Linked DNA regions of Homo sapiens: region 1 is linked to region 2. The links come from fine-mapping of genetic effects on gene expression. A gene starts in region 2. The other region holds a variant in brackets. All regions are shown on one strand. Distances are from middle to middle.

What was found. PIP is the estimated chance that this variant, and not a neighbour inherited with it, causes the effect.
Region 1: its variant is fine-mapped to the expression of GPD1L in monocytes (TOPMed, PIP 0.97).

The regions. Positions count from the first base shown.
Region 1 is chr3:32,143,761-32,151,760 of GRCh38, reverse strand. It overlaps GPD1L (glycerol-3-phosphate dehydrogenase 1 like), which reads right to left. Exons shown (of 8, transcript NM_015141.4): 5 at 5,027-5,139. It also overlaps the pseudogene RPL21P137. Among named protein-coding and RNA genes, the nearest start is that of GPD1L, 41 kb to the right of the region's middle. RefSeq lists an enhancer at 3,365-3,978. The variant C/G (reference allele first, on the strand shown) is at 4,042.
Region 2 is chr3:32,094,767-32,110,682 of GRCh38, reverse strand. It overlaps GPD1L (glycerol-3-phosphate dehydrogenase 1 like), which reads right to left and starts at 4,063. Exons shown (of 8, transcript NM_015141.4): 1 at 3,925-4,063. The coding sequence starts at 3,971. RefSeq lists silencers at 3,661-3,800, 3,921-4,330, 12,300-12,399.

The sequences.
Region 1 (8,000 bases), 45 kb before region 2:
AGGTCTATAATCCTAGCACGTTGGGAGGCCAAGGCTGATGGATCACTTGAGTCCAGGAGTTTGAGATCAGACTGGGCAACATGGTGAAACTCTGTCTCCACAAAAAATACAAAAATTAGCAGGCATGGTGGCAAGCACCTATAGTCCCAGTTACTCAGAAGGCTGAGGCGGGAGGATCACTTGAGCCCAGGAGGCAGAGGTTGCACTGAGCTGAGATTGTGCCACTGCACTCCAGCCTGGGCAACAGAGTGAGACCCTGTCTCAAAAAAAATAAAAAATAAATACATAAGCTAAAAAACCTTTTTTTAAAAAAAGATGATATTGTAGACATCAGGGGAATGGTCACTGTTCAAAAAGGAATGCCCCACAAGTGTCACCATGGCTAAACTGGAAGAGTCTACAATGTTACCCAGCATGCTGCTGGCATTGTGGTAAACAAGTTAAGGGCAAGATTCTTGCCAAGAATTAATGGGTGTATGGAGCATATTAAGCTAAGAGCTGAGATAGCTTCCTGAAACACATGAAGGAAAATGATCAGAAAAAGAAGGAAGCCAAAGAGAAAGGTACCTGGATTAGACTGAAGTACCAGCCTGCTCCACCCAGAGAAGCGCACTTTGTGGGAACCAGTGGGAAGGAGCCTGAGCTGCTGGGACTTATTCTCTATGAATTCATGCATAATAGGTGTGAAAAATAGGCTGGGTGTGATGGCTCACGCATGTAACCCCAGCACTTTGGGAAGCTGAGGCAGGCGGATCACTTGAGGCCAGGAGTTCGAGTAGCTGGGACTACAGGCACAAGCCACCACGTCTGACTAATTTTGTTTATTTTTTGTAGAGATGCGGGGGGTCTCACTGTGTTGTCCAGGCTGGTCTTGAACTCGTGGACTCAAGCAGTCTTCCCACCTCGGCCTCCCAAAGTGCTGGGATTACAAGGATGACCCACGACGTCCAGCCATTGATGAGTTTCACTTTTTTAACATTAATCATCTTTAGTAATATTCTCCATAGTAGCCAATTACAAAACGTACATTACAGATGTAATACATCTGTTGGCCAGCTACAGCCTGGCCAACATGGCAAAACCCTATCTCTACTAAAAATACAAAAATTAACTGGGTGTGGTGGAATGCACCTGTAATCCCAGCTACTTGGGAGGCTGAGGCATGAGAATTCCTTGAACCTGGAAGGCAGAGGTTGCAGTAAGCTGAGATCACACCACTGCACTCCAGCCTGGGCAAGACTCTGTCTCAAAAAAAAAAAAAAGTTGTTAAGAAAAAAAAGACCACTAGACTATTTAAAAACACAGAAAACAATAACATAAATCAGGCGCTGTGGTGCATACCTATAATCCCAGCTACTTGGGAGGCTGAGGCAGGAAAACAGCTTGAGCCAAGGAACACAAGACCTCTCTCAGAGGGGAAAAAAAAGATAACATAGATTAAACAATATACTTATGATTTTTGTACTTTTCTATATGAAGTACCTCTTAAAATTTATATTAAAACAAACAAAAAATACACCTCCAATCAAAGAAGCCAGACACAAAAGAGTGCATACTGTACAGTTCCACTTATAAAAATCCTAGAAAATGCAAACGATGGCATATAAAAGCAGATCAGCTGACTGCCCAACTGGAGGCTGGGGTGATGAGGAACCTCAAAGGGACATGTGGAGTTGTTTGGGGATAATGGAAATGTTGTGTACTTTGGTAGTGGTTTTCGCAAGTGCATGCACACAACTCTCAAAACCCATGGTATTATAAACTCTAAATAGATGCAGTTTGATTACATGAATTACATTTTTTTTTTTTTTTGAGACGGAGTCTCACTCTGTCGCCCAGGCTGGAGTGCAGTGGCACGATCTTGGCTCACTGCAGCCTCTGCCTCCCAGATTCAAGTGATTCTCGTGCCTCAGCCTCCCGAGTAGCTGGGATTACAGGCACACACCACCACGCCCAGCTAATTTTTGTATTTTTTAGTAGAGATGCGGTTTCGCCCTATTGGCCAGACTGGTCTAAGACTCCCATACTCACGTGATCCACCCGCCTTGGCCTCCACAAGTGCTGGGATTACAGGTGTGAGCCACCATGCCTGGCCTAATTACATGAATTACACTTAAAGTTGATTTTTAAAAAAGGATATATCCTTACTAAGAGATGAATACAGCTAAGAGTTCATGAAGGACATTCCGAAGGTAGTAAGAGGCACTGGTACAAAATGATTATGCATAAATCCTTTGAATTTTCTATTTTATCCTTGTAGAGAGTTGTTTTCACATTTTTCCTAGTAAGTCAAATGCTCCACATTTTTGAGTACAAAAAAGATAATGTACATTTTGTAAATTGGCTAGTATGGAGAATATTACTAAAGATTGTTAACGTAAAAAAGTAAAACACATCAATGGCTGGATGTGGTGGGTCATGCCTGTAATCCCAGCACTTTGGGAGTCTGAGGTGGGAAGACTGCTTGAGTTCACAAGTTCAAGACCAGCCTGAACAACACAGCGAGGCCCCATCTCTACAAAAAATAAACAAAATTAGTCGGGCATGGCAGCATGTGCCTGTAGTCCCAGCTACTCAGGAGGCAGAGGTGGGAGGACAGCTTGAGCTTGGGAGGCTGAGGTTGCAATGAGCCATGATTGTGCCACTGCACTCAGTCTGGGCAGCACAGCGAGACCTTGTCTCAAAAACAAACAAAACACACACACACAAAATCAAACTACTTGAACACTAATATCTAGTTTTTGTTTTAAAAAGGACCCATACACATAGGTACACACTAAAAACATTGGAAGGGTATACAACAAACATTAACTGAGGTTATTTCAGGATGTAGGATTGTCAGTGATTTGATTTTTACTTCCTTCTTTACACCTTTCTGTTGTGTGAAAACAAGGAATATGACTGTGTTATAGTCGGGGGGAAAAACCCATCACTGTTATTTATGTGATGAAAGCAACATACGGCCATGTGTCCTTGCTCTGGCAGGCTCTGATGAGAGAGGGCTTCGTTTCATTCATGCTGCCTGATTACTAACCAGAAAAGTCAAGTGGTACACAGTAACCAAAGAAACTGGGCTGAGAGTCTTAAAACCCGTGTTCACGCTCCGAGTGTGCCAGTGTTTGCTACCCTAAAGTCATTTGCTCTTTGGATCTCGATTTCCTTATCTGTGCAAGACAATGGTTGGAGTTAATAATTGCTACAAGTGCCTGTTTCTCAGTTTTCAAAAATTTTAACTCTGATGCAAACCCCCAGGAATGATGGTAACTGATCTCGTTTTAAAAGATTGTGTGGGAAGTTGCAGGGAGGATGATTAAGGGCCTTCAACCCCCACCTCCCTGCATCCCCCATGAATCCCTTTCCATCAAGGTAGCTGGCACATCCACTTACAGTCTTCCTGCCAGCAAAAATGAAAGCCATTCTAAGTTCAGACACAAGACCAGCATGGGTTCCCATTAGCAGAAGCTTTTCCAAAGCCCTCACCTCAATCTAGACTCCTTCTTCTCACCCAGCACTCTTTGCTCTGGGCAGGGTTTCACAGCTTCTCCATGACCACCAAAAACATCCAGTCACTTGAAAACAGCTTTGGAGCAGCTCAGGCCAGCACTGAGCAATTAGGCATTCACGATGCCCCCTGCTGTTGAGTGGTAATTAGTTTAATGAAGGACTATTAAAAACACATAAAAATCTCAACCAACAAAAATAAACAAAGCAGCCAAAGTCAGCGTCTTACATGTATAACTGGGCCTGCATGTAATGTAATGCTAATGCAAAGAATGCCCCACACAGGCGCTTAGAAATATGCATGTGTGCTCCCTAGGAGCCCAGGCCTTTAATTGGCTTTAATTTTTTTAAATGCTCATTATATATCATGACCACACATATATACACAATGTTAATTCTAGAGAGTGGTTTTAACTTCTGACTAGAAAAAAACATATACAATTTATGAGAAAGCATAGACAGGCATTCTTTCCACCTTTGCAACTCCCATCCAATAAAGACAGGTGACTGGTGGATTGCCTAACCTCTTCCCTAGATGCT[C/G]AAATTTCTGAAGGGTGGCTTTTTGCTGCAAAAGAGATGACTCAGAAGTGGCTCAAAAGGGGCATTCACATTGAGAACTTTTTATTTCCCCTATTCCCCCCACTCTTTTTTGTAGATGATAGTGAAATAAAGGCAACTTAGATAGTGAGGGGGAATGAGCAGGTAGCTGCTGCTGTTCCCTGTTGGTTGTTCCCCCAAGTCACGGCAGAGAGAGGGACAGTGCCTAAGGCTTTAAAAGACAGCAGCCAACAAGTCAGGAGCCCAGGTGTGGAGACCTCCCTTTACCTCAAAAGAGGGGAAAAAAAGATAACATAAACTACATACTTATGATTTTTGTACTTTTCTGTATGAAGTACCTCTTAAAATTTACATTAAAACAAACAAAAATACACCTCCAATCAAAGAAGCCGGACACAAAAGAGTGCATACTGTACAGTTCCACTTACAAAAATCCAGCAAGCCACTGGCCAGTGGAGTGCATTTCTTTAATCACATCTTCTCTCTCTTGAGGGCAAAGACAAAACTATTCTTAGAAAAACCTCTACCAGCAGCAGATTATTTTTTCCCTTAATAAGAACAACCAGCCAAACTAGTAGAGTAGCATAATTCAGAGGAAACAAGTTCCTTTTCCTGCTCAGGATGAAGTGTGGGAGAAAAACATGAATGAATAGAATCATTTGCTCCTGGGTGAAACCCTGTCATCAAGGAACTCCCATGCTTTCCAAATATCAATGCTGCCAACTTCCCAAAGACCAAAACATCACAATTCCCCCATATTTACAAGTTAAAGCAAGCCACGAGTAAGAGAGGAACTGAACCACCCGGGAAAGGCTGCAGCAAAACAGGAAGTTATAAACAAGACTCTCAATTCACTATTCTTCGCTGATGTGGGTGCACAGAACACAGAGCCCATTCTTGAGGATTAGACTCAATGATGCTAACATTTGCCTTGCTTGATGAACTCCTCCCCTGAGGCTGACTTTACCTTAAGCGCACCACAGAGTTCAACAGTGTCTGCATCATCAACCACGGTAATTCGAAAATTTGGAGTCTGCAGAAGTTCTTTGAAGAGAAGGCCGTTCTCCATTACTTTGCTGCCTGTTGAAAGGTTAGACAACAAGGATATTAATAACAGCCTCTAATCTTAATTTTCACACCTAATACACTTTAAAATAAGTTTCTACTTACTATAAAAGTAACATGTTCATGATAGGATATTTAGAAAACACATAGGAGCAGAAATAAAGTAAAAATATCCCGTTTCCAATCGAGGTGATCATTTACAATTTGACATACATTTTTAACTGACCGAATGTGAATCTAAAGTTTTTTTTGGCCAGACACGATGACTCACACCTGTAATCCCAGCACTTTGGGAGGCTGAGGCGGGCAGATCACGAGGTCAAGAGATTGAAGCCATCCTGGCTAACATGGTGAAACCCCATCTCTACTAAAAATACAAAAAATTAGCTGGGCGTGGTGGCACGTACCTGTGGTCCCAGCTACTCAGGAGGTTGAGGCAGGAGCATCGCTTGAACCCAGGAGGTGGAGGCTGTAGTGAGCTGAGATCTCACCACTGCACTCCATCCTGGGCAACAGAGCGAGACTCTGTCTCAAAAAAAAAAAAAAAAAAAAAGAAAAAAGCATGATTGTCAACAAGTAAAACTACACCAAGAAGTGACACAATGTCAAAATAATCCAGGCCATCTGAGGGTTGAGAGAGGGTGGGGAGTGGATGAAATGAGACTGGCCAGGAGTTAATCATTTCTAAAGATGGGTGACGGGCATGTGAGGTTCGTGATACTACTCTACTTTTCTGAAAAGTTTCATAATAAAACACAATATCTACACCCAATACTTAGAAACACAGTCTACTCTGTAGCATTACTGTTCTTTCATTTAGCTGAGTTCCCCTTTTCCAAATGTTAGAACTATGTCAGTTTGTGCAAACTGTTCTCTTCCTTTTTAAACAGTCCACCAGGCTGTCTAGGTGACTCTGTGCAACACTGTTGCATCATCTGGGTTGGGTAAACCAGCCCCTGGCCCCTACATCATATTACAGCCTCATCGTGTCTCCTCCCACTGCTCAGTGCCTCCAACATGAAGCATGCTCCTGAACATTGCAGACCAGCCCCTCCCTCAAGTCACTTTAATCCAGCCATCTGCAGCTGGAAACTTGGGTTGCTGGTGAACAAACTGAGGAATGGGCAGGGGAAGGCACACTCTTGGCTTGCCATAGATACAAGGTAGGGTCTATGGGTTCCTTTGTGGCTGCAAATAACGCAATGCCCATCCAAGAGGTGGGCTTGATTTATAGCAATCTCATATTTTCTCAAAGGTACCTTTTAAAATTTATTACCTTAAATCATGGATAATAGGTAGTAACTTTATTTATTTATTTATGAGACAGAGTTGCTGTGTTGCCCAGGCTAGAGTGCAGTGGCACTATCTCAGCTCACTGCAACCTCCACCTCCCAAGCTCAAGCGATTCTCCCGCCTCAGCCTCCTGAGTAGCTGCAACTATAGGCATGCGCCACCATACTCGGCTAAGTTTTGTATTTTTAGTAAAGATGGGGTTTCGCCATGTTGGCCAGGCTGGTCTCGAACTCCTGACCTCCAGCAATCCACCTGCCTTGGCCTTCCCAAGTGCTGGGATTAAAGGCATGAGCCACCGCACCCGGCCCGCGAATTTTATTATTAATATAATACCAGTCATAAGCCAGCGCGGTGGCTCATGCCTGTAATCCCAGCACTTTGGGAGGCTCAGGTAAGTGGATTACTTGAGGTCAGGAGTTCGAGACCAGCCTGGTCAGCATGGCGAAATCCCATCTCTACAAAAAATTCAAAAATTAGCCTGGCGTGGTGGTGTGTGTGTGTGTGTGTGTGTGTGTGTGTGTTCCCAGCTACTCAGGAGGCTGAGGCATTAGAATCATTTGAGCCCAGGGGGCGGAGGTTGCTGTGAGCCGAGATCACGCCACTGCACTCCAGCCTGGGCAACAGCGTGAGACTCCATCTCAAAAACAACAACAACAACAACAACAAACCCCAGTAATAAACAGTGACATGGCAAGCAGGGACTCAGGGCATCTGTACAGAACAGCTAATGCCGGACAGCCATGTGGGAAGGTTGCCCAAAACTCAATGTAAACCAAAGACAGGAAAATCCCCTTTCTCTGTCACACCAAGTTTTAGAGGCAATTAACCTATGTAATAAAACTCCTTCAAAACCCTTATTTTAGTTTGTGATTCCATATGTGTTTGTGTGCTTACAAGTTCCATAAGGAGCTTATGTATTCTAGACATTTGGCACCATGCCTGATACATAAGAGGGTTTGAAAAATATTTGTGGAATGACTGGATTAAAAGCCTCAGAGTCTGTGGTATGCCCCAAGAACGAAAGGAGACCTTACCACAAGAGGGCACTGTAGTTCACCATGACAGGATTTTGAGGCCTGAAGCTGCCCTATCTTTTCCCTCCACAGAAGATTCAAGTGGGCCACGATTCCTGAACCTACCGCAATTTAAAATAGTCCCTATGCATCAACAAAGGATGTCTGGATAACCACACTGCAATGATCAAATACAGAAAATGTAATGTTTACATAATATTATTATCTAACATATAATCCACATTCAAACCTCACCAATCACCTCTGCATTGTCTTCCACAGCAACCCTCCCTGCCTAATCCAGGACCCCACACTGCACATAGTGCTCATGTCTCCTTTTTGATTTTTAGAGACAAGGTCTTGCTCTGTCACCCAGGCTGGAGTGCCATGGTGCGATCACTGCTCATTGCAGCCTCCACCTCCCACGCTGAAGCAATCCTCTCATCTCAGGCTCTCGAGTACCTGGGACCATAGGCGTGCACCACCACACCTGGCTAATTTTTGTATTTTTAGTAAAGATGAGGTTTCGCTTGTCATGTTGACAAGGCTGGTCTCAAACTCCTAACTTCA
Region 2 (15,916 bases):
TCTGATCTATGTAGAGAAAATGAGCTTCACCAAAGGACAGGACAAGGGCATGTTATACAACACGTCTACTTTCCTGCCCAGGACCTTCCTGGCTGAAGCTCCCTGGCAAGCCAGCTAGATTCAATATTCTGATAACTGTATTGCAACTGATGACAATTGACTTGGGAGAGGCACTCCATGTGAGAGTTCTCAAATGTGACAAACACCTTTATTTACACAAACAGGCTAAGCTGCCCTAAAGTTCCAAGTATAAACATTGCTTAAGCAACTTGACATTCCTGAGGTAAGAACCAGATCTGGAAGGGTAGGTCTATCTCTTGGTGATCTGTATTAAAATTGGCAAAAGGCTAAAGTTCCTTCAGAAAAAAAAATCTCATTCTCAGGGGATATGATTAAGCAAGTCTAGTTTCAGTGGTAATTCTGACACAAGTGGTCTTGGGACCACAATTTAAGAAACACGATTTAGGCCGGGCGCAGTGGCTTACGCCTGTAATCCCAGCACTTTGGGAGGCCGAGGCAGGCAGATCACGACGTCAGGAGATTGAGACCATCCTAGCTAACACAGTGAAACCTCGTCTCTACTAAAAAACACAAAAAATTAGCTGGGCGTGGTGGCGGGTGCCTGTAGTCCCAGCTACCTGGGAGGCTGAGGCAGGAGAATGGCGTGAACCCGCGAGGCGAAGCTTGCGGTGAGCTGAGATTGCGCCACTGCACTCTAGCCTGGGCGACAGAGCGAGACTCCGTCTCAAGAAAAACAAAAACAAACAAACAAAAAAAGAAACACGATTTAAAGTGTAACAGAGCAGTTACTCCATTCCACTTGGCAATTCCTTCGGTCTTATCTTCCATGTCCTCACTGATCTCAGACCTGAAGGTAAGTTGTTTAAGGACCGGGACTGTGTCCAGCTGTGTCTGCATCCCTGGTCAGACCACAGTCTCTTCACCGGGCAACACTCAAATGTCTACTGACTAGAGCTGAACACTCCTCTGGGGCTTCTCCATGTTGTTTTCAGTTTCTGAGTTCCTGAATCCCTCTGGGGAGGTTGTGATCCTCTCTCTAGGACTGGAGTAACTCTGTACCCAAGGCAGTGGCACAGAAGCCAAGAATTGTTCCCGTCTAATCCCATAATTAATGAAGCCAGGCAGCCAGCCCAAACCATCAGCACATTTCTCAATTGCTCTGCTTCAGTATCACTGGCCAAGTTCTACTCCATTTCCCTGGGCTGGAGTGGGCCAAGGAAACAGTCAAGTACACCAGAATGAAGAAGCCACGGGCAGGCAGCCAAATCCCAGCAGAGGGGGCAGGAGGCTCACTTCACTACTCTTGCTCCAGGCCCAGTTCCAGCATGGCAGAGCTGTGCTACTTGTCCTGCATCTTGCAAATTAGGAAAAGGGGCTGTCATCTGTGGAATTGTACAGACTAAAAAACTAATGTTAAAAAAACATGTGCTAAATGGGTGCCTTTCAAGTGGCATGGCCAACAGGGGAGCTGACACTGCACTCAAGTGAGCTTGACATTAAAACTGGCAAAGCCGGCCGGGTACGGTGGTTCATGCCTGTAATCCCAGCACTTTGGGAGGAAGAGGCAGGCGGATCATGAGGTCAGGAGATTGAGACCATCCTGGCTAACATGGTGAAACCCCGTCTCTACTAAGAATACAAAAAATTAGCCAGGCATGGTGGCGGATGCCTGTAGTCCCAGCTACTCAGGAGGCTGAGGCAGGAGAATGGCATGAACCCAGGAAGCGGAGCTTGCAGTGAGCAGAGATCGCGCCACTGCACTCCAGCCTGGGCGACAGAGGGAGACTCCGTCTAAAAAAATAGTAATAAAAAAAAACAACTGGCAAAGCCAAGCTGAAAGTCCAAATTAAGCTTTGCAGCAGCAAGCTACCAACTCTATTAAATATTGTGTAGAACATTCTGTTGTTGGTTGAAAAATGCAGCTCACAGAAAAGTATGCAATACCCTAGTATTTGCAGCGTGGAGGGCGAAAGGACTATATGTAAGCATTCACTTGCATGGAATTCCTCCAGAAAGGACAGAAGTAATTCATAACACTGGTTTTCCTCCAGGAGGTACTCAGGGGGGATAAATGTGGATGGGTGATGTTTCACTGTTTTTGGTACTCTTTGGTTTTTGTTTTTTATTTTTTGTTTTGTTTTGTTCTTTTGAGACAGGGTTTCACTCCCTTCACACAGACTAGAGTACGATGGTGCAATCTGATTTTGGCTCACTGCAACCTCTGCCTCCCAGGCTCAGGCGATTCTGCTGCCTTAGCATCCCAAGTAGCCGGGACTACAGGCGCCTGCCACCACACCTGGCTAATTTTTTGTATTTTCAGTAGAGACGGGGTTTCACCGTGGTCTCAATCTCCTGACCTCGTGATCCCCCTGCCTCAGCCTCCCAAAGTGCTGGGATTACAAGCGTGAGCCACCATGCCCGACTAATATTTTATTTTTTGTAGAGGCGGGGTTTTGCCGTGTTGCCCAGGCTAGTCTCAAACTCCTGGGCCCACCTCAGCCTCCCAAAGTGCTGGGATTACAGGCATAAGCTACTGCGCCCAGCCCTGGTTGTTAAACAATGTGAATGTATTATTCAATCAAATATCATTATGGTTTTAAAAATTAGTTTTTAGGCAGGGAGCGGTGGCTCACACCTGTAATCCCAGCTACTCAAGTGGATGAGGCACAAGAATCGCTTGAATCCAGGAGGTGGAGGTTGCAGTGAGCCAAGATCGCACCACTGCAACAGAGTCTTAGTATTGACTTAGCATATGCCAGGCACTAGGGTAGATGCCATTCTCAAAAGTTGGGAGACAGATAATCAAATAACTCCTTATAATGCAGTGATGCAGGCCAGCAATAGGGACACAGAGAGAGGCCACTGGCCTTGCTGGGATGGAAAAGTGAAGAACCAGGTAAGGTTTCCTTCAATAAGTACTTTCTGGGCCAAGTCTTGAAAGAGTAAAACTAAGACCAACTACCTAGGACCAGCTGCTGCAGCACTTCTGATGCCTGTCACGCCACAGAAAAACCGGTAAACAGAAGCACTGAAAGGACATCATCACTCTTAACTATTGTACACCAGTCCCTCCAATGTGGCAGAGTGTACAGCAATGAAAAAAGGCTTGGAAACACCAGATGCTACACTTTGCTTCCTTCCCCCTTCACACCCCCACCTCTACATTCACCCAAACACACCAGAGAATCCCACAGTGTACGTTTGATTAAGGGTACTAGAAGAACTGACATTTCTAATGTGCTCTATAAAATGTTAAAGTCAAATAAGGCCCCAAAGAGACGCAAAGCTTCGCAAACATCTCGGCAAGGGAGAATTCTCAACGCCTCAGGGAGAGCGGCCTGTTGAAACTTGGATTTTCTTCCTGATACGACGCGCCTAAGATAGTGGACCTATCAGAAGCGGGGGCGAGACGGGCACCTTGAAGGGCAGAGCATGCCCCGCCCGTGACCTGGGCAGCAAGAGCCCTTTAGCCCTCTCCGCCTCGGTTTCCTCAACACCGAAACTGCAGTAAGAATGCTCGAGCCTCCACCAAGTCCTTGACCCAGGAGATCCGCCGTGGAGAACGGAATACGCCCTTAGGATATTGTGCAAAACACCCAGGCGTGGCAAGCAGGTGGCTTCTGTGCGCTCAGTAACGGGGGCGCAGACAGGTGCCCGCGTGCTCGGGGTGCCCTCTCTCCGCGCTGTCCCCCGCACGCACGCGAGCCCAGCGCCTCCCGAGCGAGTGCCCCGGTGCGGCCTCCTCGGGCGCACGGTGCCCAGCCCAGCAACGAGGTCGCCCACCCCGCCTCCCTGCGCGCAGTGCCCGGTGCCCACGCCGCAGCATGGGGCGCGCAGCCCTCACCGCCCGGGAGAGGCGCTTCCTGGAAGCGGAGCCCCGGCCTCCAGCCCGCCGCCGCTCACCAGTTCCCCGAGCCCACGATGCACACTTTCAGGGGCGCCGCTGCCATGGCCGGGCCGAATGTAGCCGCCTGGACCGTGCTTCCCTGGCCGGCTGCCCACCTCCGCCTGTTCAGCCTTGCCCGCAGCGGCTGGCGGCGGCCCCGCCCCTTTCGCCTCTCCGCCAATGGTCGCGGCCACCCCCGCCCGGCGCCGGGGGCCGCAGCTGACAGCGGGGCAGGACCCGCTTCGCCACTCCCAAGAACCACTGCGCACGCCTGGCCCCGGCCGGCCTCCAGGCCCGGCTCCGGCACCGCCCCGCCCTGCCCGAGGCACGTCGGGACATGTAGTCCTCACCCCCCGTCGCTGCGCGGCCCTAGGCAGCAGCTCCCGCCGCGCCACATGCAGGCCCAGGCCACTGAGCAGCGACTCGCGCCCCTGGTTCCCGGTGGAGGCTGCACTCCATCCTCATGGGTGGAGCAGACCCAACCAGCTTGCCGTGGTGCCCCCTACACGCTCCTTTTTCCCTACTCGGGAAGGGCTGCCACATTGCCATTTGGAGCCGAGAGAGGCTCCTAGGTTGACTCTCAAGCCGACCAGACTTGGGGCAGAGCTCGAAATGCCCACCCGACCTTGTCATCCTCTGTTTCATTTGCACAAACAAGACACAGCCTGGCACCTCTGAACTTCTTAGAGAACTTGGATCTTCAGAGGACTTTGGAATTTGGCTGAACAGTACCTGCATTTCAAGGATGACACCTTTTCTAGTTAGAGTCAAGATAGAAACTTGACCTGGTGCAGTGGCTCACACCTGTAATCCCAGCACTTTTGGAGGCCGAGTCAGGAAGATCACTTGAGCCCAGGAGTTCGAGACCAGCCTGAGCAACATAATTAGGACCCCCCACCCCTCTGTACAAAAATTTAAAAAATTAGCCAAGCATGGTGGCACGCACCTATAGTCCTAGCTACTCAGGAGGCTGAGGCGGGAGAATTGCATGTGCCCAGGAGGTCGAGGCTTCAGTGAGCCAGGATAGGGCCACTGCACTCCAGACTGAAGGACAGTGAGACCCTGTCTCAACAAAAAATAAATACATAAAAATAAAGGGAAAAAGGTAACAACAGCTTGCATTCAGTGGGTGTCACCCTCACACGCTTACTTGGCAGGAATTGCTTTACCATTGTCTTTGCCCAGGGCCTGACTTATCCCTTGCTTGTGGTTTGTTTGCATTTGTGAGTAACACAATGCTCTCCTCCTTGACAAATAGAATCTTAGTTTGTTCATTCTGAGCATCAGTCTCTGCCAGGCACTGTGCTAGACGCTGTCAGAGTAGGACAAAGTCCTTTAAACCAGTGGTTCTCAAACTCTGCTGCATATTAGTCACTGGGGCTTTTAAAAATCCCCATGCCCAGACACCATTGCAGGCCAGTTACATCAGAATGTCCCATGGTGGGATCCAGGCATCAGGATATTTACTTATTGACATATATTTTTTGAGACAGTCTCCTTCTGTTGCCCAGGCTGGAGCAGAATTTTTTAAAGTTCAAGAGGTAGTTGCAAAAGCAAGCCAAGATTGAGAACCAGAAGACTAAAATATCAGTGGATTCTGGCTAAAGAAACAAATACTCTAGTACCTACAAAAAACTAAGCCTAGGCCGGGTGCCGTGGCTCACGCCTATAACCCCAGCACTTCAGGAGGTCGAGGCAGGCAGTTCACCTGAGGTCAGGAGATGGAGACTAGTCTGCCCAACTTGGCAAAACCCCGTCTCTACTGAAAATACAAAAAATTAGCCAGGCATGGTGGCAGATGCCTGTAATCCCAGCTACTCAGGAGGCTGAGACAGGAGAATCTCTTGAACCTGGGAGGCGGAGGTTGCAGTGAGCCGAGATCTTGCCTGGGCGACAAGAGCGACACTCCGTTTCAAAAAAATGATAGTAATACTAAGCCTATTAGTTTGATGCTCAGAGAACTGTTATTTTTGCTTTTTTCTCTACATTGTATGAAATATTTATTTGTGTTACTTATGATATTTACTTAAGGAAATACTTAAAGGGAGCTGGTGAGTCAGAGCAGTCTTTCCATCCCCTCACCAATGGTTTGTTCTCAATTATTTGCACTAATGCAAGGATACATGCAGGGATAATGGGAAAGATGGACTAGTAAAGCTTTATTAATCCTTTCTGTATTTGTGTAACAGAACGCATTTGTCAAATTGAATAATGAAGTCATGTCCTTGGGTAGTACACATACACTGCAAATATTTATGTTATCTAACTGAACTAGGGTCCCTTCACCTGACACAGTAAGGCCAAATACCCACACCAAGGTTTGCAGAGGGAGAAAGAAGGGTGTTTATCTGTAGGGTACCAAGCAAGGAGAATCAGGTAGCTCCTCCTTGATGGCTGGCAAGTAAGGGTTTTTAAAGGCAGCTGGGGGCCAGGCGCGGTGGCTCACACCTGTAATCTCAACACTTTGGGAGGCCGGGGTGGGAAGATTGCTTGAGCTCAGGAGTTCAAGACCAGGCTGGATAACACATACCGTGTCTCTACAAAAAATTAAAATTAGCTGGGTGTCCCAGCTAGTCGGAATAGGCTGAGATGAGGGGATTACTTGAGCCTAGGAGGTCGAGGTTGCAGTGAACTGTAATTGTGCCACTGCACTCCAGCCTGAATGAAAGAGCAAGACCCTGTCTCAAAAATAAAAAGTAAAATAAAGGTGCGTGGGGCAGAGGTTACAGGCAAAGTCATAAATCAATACATGGAGCTACACATTGGTTTGACCTAAAAAAGCAGGACATCTCAAAGTGGGGGAGGGGGACCCACAGGTCATAGGTGAATCAGAGATTTTCTTTTTTGCAATTGGTTAAGGAACTTTAGACAAAGCTTTGTCTAAAAATTTGGGGTCAGTAGAAAAGAACGTTAGTTCTCAGCCTGGGCAGTATAGGGAGACCCCATCTCTACAAAAATAATTTAAAAATTAGCTGACCATGCTGGCACAGACCTGTGGTTCTAGCTACTTGGGAGACTGAGGTGGGAGGATTGCTTGGGCCTGGAAGGTGGAGGTTGCAGTGAGCCATGATTGTGCCACTGCACTCCAGCCTGGGCAACAGAGTGATACACTGTCTCCAAAAAGAAAAAATAAAAGAAAAAAAAAGAATGTTAGTTCTGATTTGCAGACATGACTTTCAGGCCCCTCTGAAAGACGTTGAAGAACAGTGGTCAGAGTTCAATCCTCAGTTCCTCCTTATCTGAGGTCTATATGCCAGTGGATACATTTCGTGAGGGTCTGGGTTTTTAAAAAACAACTCAGGGACATAGTTAAGATGCATCATTAGTTTCTATAGGGACCATCTTCTGACTCTAACTTCCTTGGCTTTTTATTTTTGATTTTTTTTTTTTATTTTGAGGTAGAGTCTTGCTCTGTCATCCAGGCTGGAGTGCAGTGGCACAATCTCAGCTCACTGCAACCTCTGCCTCCCAGCTCAAGTGATCCTCTCCCTCAGCCTCTCAAGTAGTTGGGACTACAGGTACATGTCACAATGCTAATTTTTGTATTTTTTGTAGAGACGGGATTTTGCCATGTTGCCCAGGCTGGTCTCGAACTCCTGAGCTCAAGTGATCTGCCTGCCTCAGCCTCCCAGAGTGCTGGGATTACAGGCGTGAGCCACTGTGCCCGGCCTTGGCTATTGTTTTAAGCTACTATTACCTTCTTGCTTATTAATTTGCTCATTTACTTCTAAAGGCTGGGAAGGTGCCTGGAATTTCCCTTGAAGGAACTCAAGATTTTCTGTTATTTCCATGCTTGGGAGATCCACAGGCCTTTAAGAGAGGTCCCTGCTCTTAAATGATTTTGTAAAGGTCCCTTTACACCAAATGATTCATTTTTAGCAGTTGCCTAAAAGTTTTTAGTTTATTTTAAAAAAGGTTTTTTTTTGGTAGAAACAGGGTCTTGCTACGTTGCTCAGGCTGATCTTGAACTCCAGGTCTCAGGCAATCTTCCTGCCTTGGCCTCTCAAAGTGCTGGGATTATAGGCAAGAGCCACCACGCCTAGCCACCTAAAAGTTTTTTGTTTTTTTTTCTTTTTTTTAAATTTTTTGGGGGTCACGTAAAAGTTTTGTACCTTCTCTGGAAACTCTTATTCCTGAATATTACAACTACATTTGCATGAACGTGAGCTACCCACCTATTCTGTGTGTTGGGGTGATCAGACCCAACACTAAGCTGTGGGTGCTACGAAGTCCAGCAGAGTCAAAGGAATGAGAAAAGACAAGAGAGAAAGTGGGACCAGGGGGCCAACGCTAGTATGGAGGCTGCAAAGGCCCTGAGCTCTGGGAGCCCACGCTATTTATTGGTGATAAAACAAAGAAACAGGTGGTGAGGATGTGGGGGTTGGAAGGAAGTGGCGTATCAAGCGAATGAGCTATAGCTGTGAGAGTTTAGCATTTTCTTTGAAACATATGGCTACTTGAGATAATGGGAGTGCTAAAAGCAAGGAGCCCGCAAGTCTAGACCCATTCCAAAGGCCACGAGGGGTTTTAGACCCTGGACCCCTGACATGTTCCAAGCCCTGCCTCAGGTTCTCTCCCAACACTCAGCTTTTCTCCCAACACTGTGGACATATCCTGCCCAGCATCATCCTACAGTGTTTACTGGTCACCTGATATGCACAGCACATTGTGCCAGAACAGAGAGGATAGTCATTTGGTTTTACAGACTGGTTACAAAGATTAAGACAAAAAACAAATAGGTGAAATTTATGAACTTAATGTTGAGAGAATAAAGCAAGTTTCGGGAGAATACATACAGTGTGATCCCATTTCTGTTAGTTAAGAAACAAGCAAAAATAAATCTATCACTAGGGATTCACATGTAGTGAAACCATAGAGGAAAACAAAGAAAGGAAACACACAAAATGCAGGATCATGGATATGGTGAAGGGCAGGATTAGTTATTTATACATTTTGCACATATTAAATAATTTTTGTGTAGATGTTTAATGAAAATCATGGGGGAAAGGAGAAGCCACAGTACAGAGGACTGAAGAATGCCAGACGAATCACAGTGGATAGGAACTAGTGACCTGCTTTCCAATTTTGAGATAGCTGATCTTCTGCCAGTCCCACTCTCTTTTGTCTAAGATGACAGTGCCAACGATGTTGCCACCTTCTCCAAAAGGGTTGAGTAGCCTGGAAGACAAAAGGTTAGCCATTGTCATTGTGACAGTGCCAACTCTTCGGGGACCTGGAGAAGGCTTAGGGCAGGGGTGTCCAATCTTTTGGCTTCCCTGGGCCACACTGGAAGAACTGTCTTGGGCCACACATAAAACACTAATGATAGCTGATAAACTAAAAAACAAAACAAACAAACAAAAACTTGCAAAAAGAATCTCATAATGCTTTAAGAAAGTTTACGAATTTGTGTTGGGCCGCATGCGGTCCATAGGCTGTGGGTTGGACAAGCTTGGCATAGGGTGTCTATAATTTCATGCATGGAGACAATGTCTTTAACAACATGACTGGTTCATGCATTGTGGTAGAAAGAGGTGCCACTAGCTAGCCAAGTAAAAATCAGGCAGCACTTTGGAAACTCAGCCCAGAAATCTTCTTAGAAAGGTCACTGAGTTCATGAAGTACACTTTTTATTTTCCACATTACAGAAGGCCACGGCAACAGTGTTGCCAAACTTTTCTATGTAACTGGAGTCCCCTTTCCTCTCTCCAGATAACATTTCCCTCACTTTTAAGTCCTCACTCCCAGCCTCCTACACCATTACTAACATGCTCCCAGAGGCGTTTCTGGCTTGTATCTGCTGCCCAGTCCCAAAGCCAGTGCTGCGTGTTATGGTATTATCAATACTCCACTTCCAGGTATCAAAATCTGTCCTGATTATTGCTTGTTGCATAACAAACCATACCAAAATGTAGATCTTAAACAACATTTCTTTATCTCTGGAATCTTACATGGGGGTGGATGTTCAAATGGGGCTGGAAGGTCCACTTCCAAGATGATTTGCTTGGATGGAGCAAGATGGAGGCCAAAATGGCTGCCAAATTGTGGGTGTTGCTGCCTGGGAGCTTGGCAGAAGCTGAGGGCTGGAGGCTGGAGTCCTCTACGTGGGCCTCTCTGGAGCTGCTTCTCCATGGCATAGTGCCTGCGTTCCGCAAGGAAGCATCCCAAGAAAAACAAAATGGAAATTGCCGATTTCTTAAGACTTGAGTCCAGAAATGGCCATGACATCACTTTTGTTGTGATCTTTTGGTCAAGAAATTACAGAGCCCAAATTCTAAAGGAAGGGACATAGGCTCTACCTCTCGTTAAAAGAAGTGTCAAAGAATTTGGGGATTATGTTTTAAAATTGCCATTGCCATGCTCTATATTATATATTCGTATTACAAGTGAGGACACTAAGGTACAGCAACACTAATAAACACTTTCCAAGGGTCCAGTGGTGAGTCAGGACCAGAATTTTTGGATTCATATCCTGCACTTATCAACTGTTCATTTATTCTACATGTACTTACTGAGCACCTACTATGTGCTGGTCACTGTGCTGGGTCCCAAGAATTAAATATTAAACAAAAGCTGGATGAGGTGGCTCACACCTGTAATCCCAGTACTTTGGGAGGCTGAGGTGGGCGGATCACTTGAGCTCAGGAGTTCGAGACCAGCCTGGGCAAGACCCCATCTCTAAAAAAAAAAAAAAAAAAAAATTAGCCAGGTGTGGTGGTGCATGCCTGTAGTCCCACCTATTCAGGAGGCTGAGGCAGGAGAATCACTTGACCCCAGGAGGTGGAGGTTGCAGTCAGCTGAGATCGTGCCATTGCACTCCAGCCTGGACAACAGAGTGAGAGTCTGTCTCAAAAACAAACAAAGAAGAGAGGCAAGGTTCCTGACCTCTTAGATGCTTATATTTAAAGGAAGATGTAGACCAATGAACAGGGAAACACCCTAGTGTGATAAATGGTACCAGCTTACTATGGCAGCTCAGAAAAAGACCCTTGTCCCAGATTTGGGAGTTTAGGGAAGGCTTCCTAGATAAAGTAAGATCTCTGCTGAAACCTGAAGAGAAGGTAGCATCGGCAAAGTAAAGGGGTGGGAGAGCAGCTAATGAGCTGCTCCATGCAGAGGGAACAGCACAGGCCAAAGTTCAGAGTCTAGAGAGAGAATGGGATATTCAGAAGCTAAGAGGAGTTTAGTATGGATGGAGGGAAGAATGAATGAGTGACAGAATATGAGGGGAAAGGGGGAATGGAAATAAATAAAAGCAGAGAGGTAGAGGAGGTACCTGATTATGGTTGGCCTTATAAAGCATATTGAAGAATTAGAACTGAAATCCTGAAGGCCAAAAAAACCATTATAGGGTTTCACCAGGAGCTTAACATCATCAGTCTTGTGTCATAGGAAGCATGCTCTGGATGAATTCACAGGGAAAAGTCCCGAAGGCTGAGGCCAGGAAGGAGCCTGCTGCTGTATTCTATAAGAGCCATCATAATGGCTTAGAGTGAGATGGAGACCAGTGTGGTGGTAACAGTGATGGAGACAGGTGATTGAAAGTCAGACATATCTAGGAAGCAGAAAAAAGAGACTTACTACTTTCTCAGGTGGGAGAGAGAAAAGGGTCTAGGATGACTCCAGCTATCAGTCTTGGGCAACTGAATGAATATCATTTGCTAAAATGGGGAACCCAGGAAGAGAAACCGATCTAGAGAGAAGGATGATGAACTCAGTTCTAGACAAGTTAAGTTTGGGGGAAGGTCGTTTGATATCGAAGTTCAGATTTCAGGGAGGCAGTTGGATATGTGAGCCTGAGATAGACACATTTGTCATTTACCAGCATGTACTTAGAAGTTGCAAGTGGTCAGTGCCTAGAACAATGCCTAGCACAGAGTGGGCACTCAATAAATGTTGAATGAAAGTGATTGGGATCACTCAGAGAGATGGGAAGACAAACCAGGATAGACTCTGGAATGGACTTAATATTAAAGAAGAGAAGCATGAGAGGATGAGAAAGAAACAATGAGAACATTGTGTGGTATCACAGTTGCCAAAGGAAGGCAACATTTCAAGAAGGAAGGATGGTCACAGGGGAGTTGAAAGTGGTCAAATAAAAACTAGGGCTGGGTGCAGTGGCTATTCTATGCTTGTAACCCCAGCACTTGGGGAGGCTGAGATGGGCAGATCGCTTGATCCCAGGAGTTTGAGACCAGCCTGGGCAACACAGCAAGACTGTCATAAAAAAAAAAAAATGGATAGGACTAAAGTATAATGCATCTTTCTTTCTTTCTTTTTTTTTTTTGAGACGGAGTCTCGCTCTGTCACCCAGGCTGGAGTGCATTGGCGCGATCTCTGCTCACTGCAAGCTCCGCCTCCCGGGTTCACGCCATTCTCCTACCTCAGCCTCCCAAGTAGCTGGGACTACAGGCACCCGCCACCACGTCCAGCTAATTTTTTGTATTTTCAGTAGACGGGGTTTCACTATGGTCTGGCTCCTGACCTCGTGATCTGCCCGCCTCGGCCTCCCAAAGTGCTGGGATTACAAGCGTGAGCCACTGAGCCCGGCCGTGTAATGTATCTTTCGGGCTTGGAGGATGTTGGTAGGGTCCTCATATGGTTGTGCAGGTAGCACACTGCACAACACCAGCAGGCACCATGCACATTGCAGACATTGCAGATTGGTATACCTAAGATGACTATTTTCTGATAGATGGAAGCAAGCGTCTTGAAAAAGGGAAATGTTTTTCCAGTCCATATGAAAGCAATATATGGGCTAGCCACAGGCCTGTTTTTTTCTGTATCTGGTCAGAGTAAGTCACTTTCAGTTTTGGGGCAGAGCATAAACTCATTGTGTGGTGGGTGGAGGTATAAATAAATGGAAGGTAGGGAAGTGAGGCTTGAGAAAGTACAGATATCTTAGTCTGTTTGTGCTGCTGTAACAAAATACCTGAAACCAGGCAATTTATAAAGAACAGAATTTTTTTGTTTGTTTGCTTTTTTTTGAGACAGGGTCTCCCTTTGTCGCCCAGGCTGGAGTGCAATGGCAGGATCTTGGCTCACTGCAACCTCCATCTCTCAGGTTCAAGTGGTTCTCGTGTTTCAGCCTCCTGAGTAGCTGGGATTGCAGGCTTGTACCATTATGCCTGGCTATTTTTGTATTTTTAGTAGAGAGAGGGTTTCACCATGTTGGCCAGGCTGGTCTCAAACTCTTGGCCTTAAGTGATCTGCCTGCCTTGGCCTCCCAAACTGCTGGGATTACAGGCATGAGCCACCGAGCTCAGCCCAGAAATTTATGTCTTAGTTCTGGAACCTGGAAAGTCCCAGGTCAAGGTGCTGGCATTCAGTGTCTGGTAAAGGCCTTCTTGCTTGTCCTCACATGATGGAAGAGCAGAGGGAAAAAAAAAAGGGCCTAATTCCCTGTATCGCTTTTATGAAGTCATAATCTGGCCAGGTGCTGTGGTTCATGACTATAATCCCAGCACTTTGGGAGGCTATCATGGGAGGATTGCTTGAGCCCAGGAGTTTGAAACCAGCCTGGACCACTTGGCAAGACCTTGTCTCTACAAAAAAATTTTTAAAATAGCTGGGCATGGCGGTGCACACCTATATCCCCAGCTACTTGGGAGGCTGAGGTGGGAGGCTCCCTTGAGGCCAAGAGGTTAAGGCTTCAGTGATTGTGTCACTGCACTCCAGCCCGGGCAATAGAGCAAGCCTGTCTCAAATAAACAAATAAAGTCATAATTCCCAATTAGAGCCCTCATGACTTAATCACCTCCTAAAGGCCCCACCCCTTAATACTATCAAATTGGGGATTAAGTTTCAACATGAATTTTGGAGAAGACACAGACATTCAAACTGCAGCAGTAGACAGTGTTTTCTAGAAGTTTGGCTGTGAGAAGATGAGAGCTAGGGACACGAGGAAAAGGAGAGGCAAAACTAAAGAGTAGCAAAATAATTTTAGTTTTTTTGTGCTTGTTTGTTTTACATCATGTGGAGGAGGCTAGAATATGTTGAACTAGTCCTGGGGAGGAGCCAACAGAGAGGGAGATATCTAAAATACAGGAGAGGCCAGGTGCAGTGGTTCATACCTGTAATCCCAGTAGGAGGATCTCTTGAGTAGTTGTGATTCCAGCTACTCGGGAGGCTGAGGCAGGGGGATCCCTTGAACCCAACAGTTTGAGGTTGCAGTGAGCTATGATTGTGCCACTGCACTCCAGACAGAGCAAGACTCTGTCTCAAAAGGTAAATAAAATGAAATACAAAAGAGAGACTGAGAATGAGATTGGGAGTAAGAGTGAGAGATAAATTAGTCTTTTTTTTTTTTTAATTGAGACAGAGTTTTGCTCTTGTTGTCCAGGCTGGAGTGCAGTGGCGTGATCTTGGCTCACTGCAACCTCTGCCTTCTGGTTTCAAGTGATTCTCCTGCTTCAGCCTCCCGAGTAGCTGGGATTACAGGCACCCGCCACCATGCCAGGCTAATTTTTGTATTTTTAGTCGAGATGGCATTTCACCATGTTGGCCAGGCTGGTCTCGAACTCCTGACCTTATGATCCGCCTACCTCGGCCTCCCAAAGTGTTGGGATTACAGGCGTGAGCCATGCGCCCAGCCAAGGGATTAGTCTTATATTAGACAAGATGGTCCCAGAAAAATTCTCTGAGAAGGAGACATCTGAACGCATGGAAGGAGCCTGCCATGGGAAGGTGGGAAGAAGACAACTCCAGGGAGGGGGACTGCTAGTGTAAAGGCCCCGAGGCAGTGCAGAGCCTGCATGTTTGAGGAACAGAAAACTATAATTAATAAGTAAGTATGAGAGAGAGGAGCATTTCAGTCAGAGACACAGTCAGCCCAGATTAAATAGCAGGGTCTTGTGGTCCATAGTATTAAAAAAAAAAAAAAAAAGGATTTCCCACTAGGCAAATCTGAGTCAATGCATGCATTAAAATTAATAATAATAGTTATGAATTTAAACTCTTTGAATAAAAGTTCATGAGCCTATACCGATTCAAAGAAACAAGTAAACAAACAAGGCAGAAGGGAAATAAGTAAACAAACAAGGCAGACAAACAAGTCAAATGTCAACCCATAAATATGGAAAGAATGATGGCTCTAGACAATCATCAATGGATGCTAACAATAGTGACGAAAGTTTGATGTGGGACAGGATATTTATTTAGCATTAAAGTGTCCACACAAATTGTTTACAAAGGATAAAACAGTAACTTTACTGTAGAGTAAACTGGCTGACACCACCTTAACCACATGGTCAAAGTCATTGCCAGTGACGGGACAAACTGATACATGCATCTTCTTTAACTAAAATGAGAAGATATTTACTTAATATCAGTGTGTTAGATATTTATTTTTAAAAATAGGACTTCAGGATTTTACAGATTAAAATATTTTTAATTCTTTTGATGTCTGACAGAGACTTGTCCATTTTCTCCAAGTAAGGACATAAGCTATTACCATATCCGATTACCATTTTATTTCATCTTATTTTATTTTAATTCATCTTATTAATCTTACTTTAATTAACTTATATTTTGAATAATTAATGCATCCATTTGGCTCAAAACCCAAAAGTCTTAAAGAGGTATACAGTGAAATCCCTTTCTTTTACAGCAGATGCCCAATTCCCTCCTTTGAAGAAACCCTTGTTCTCAATCCCAATTTCTTTGTGTATCCTTCCAAGAATATTCCATGCATATACAAATACATTTTTTTCCTCTCTCTTTTTTTGTTTTTGAGACAGAGTTTCGCTCTGTTGCCTGGCTGGAGTGCAGAGGCACAAACATGGCTCACAGCAGCCTTGACCTCCTAACTTCAAGCAATTGATCCTCTCACTTCATCCTTCCAACTAGCTGAGACTACAGGTGCGAGCCACCATACCTGGCCAATTTTAAAAAGTTTTTGGTAGAGATGAAGTTTCACTGTGCTGCCCAGGCTGGTCTTGAACTCCTGGGCTCAAGAGATCCTCTGGCCTCAGCCTTTCAAAGTGCTGGGATTACAGGCGTAAACCACTG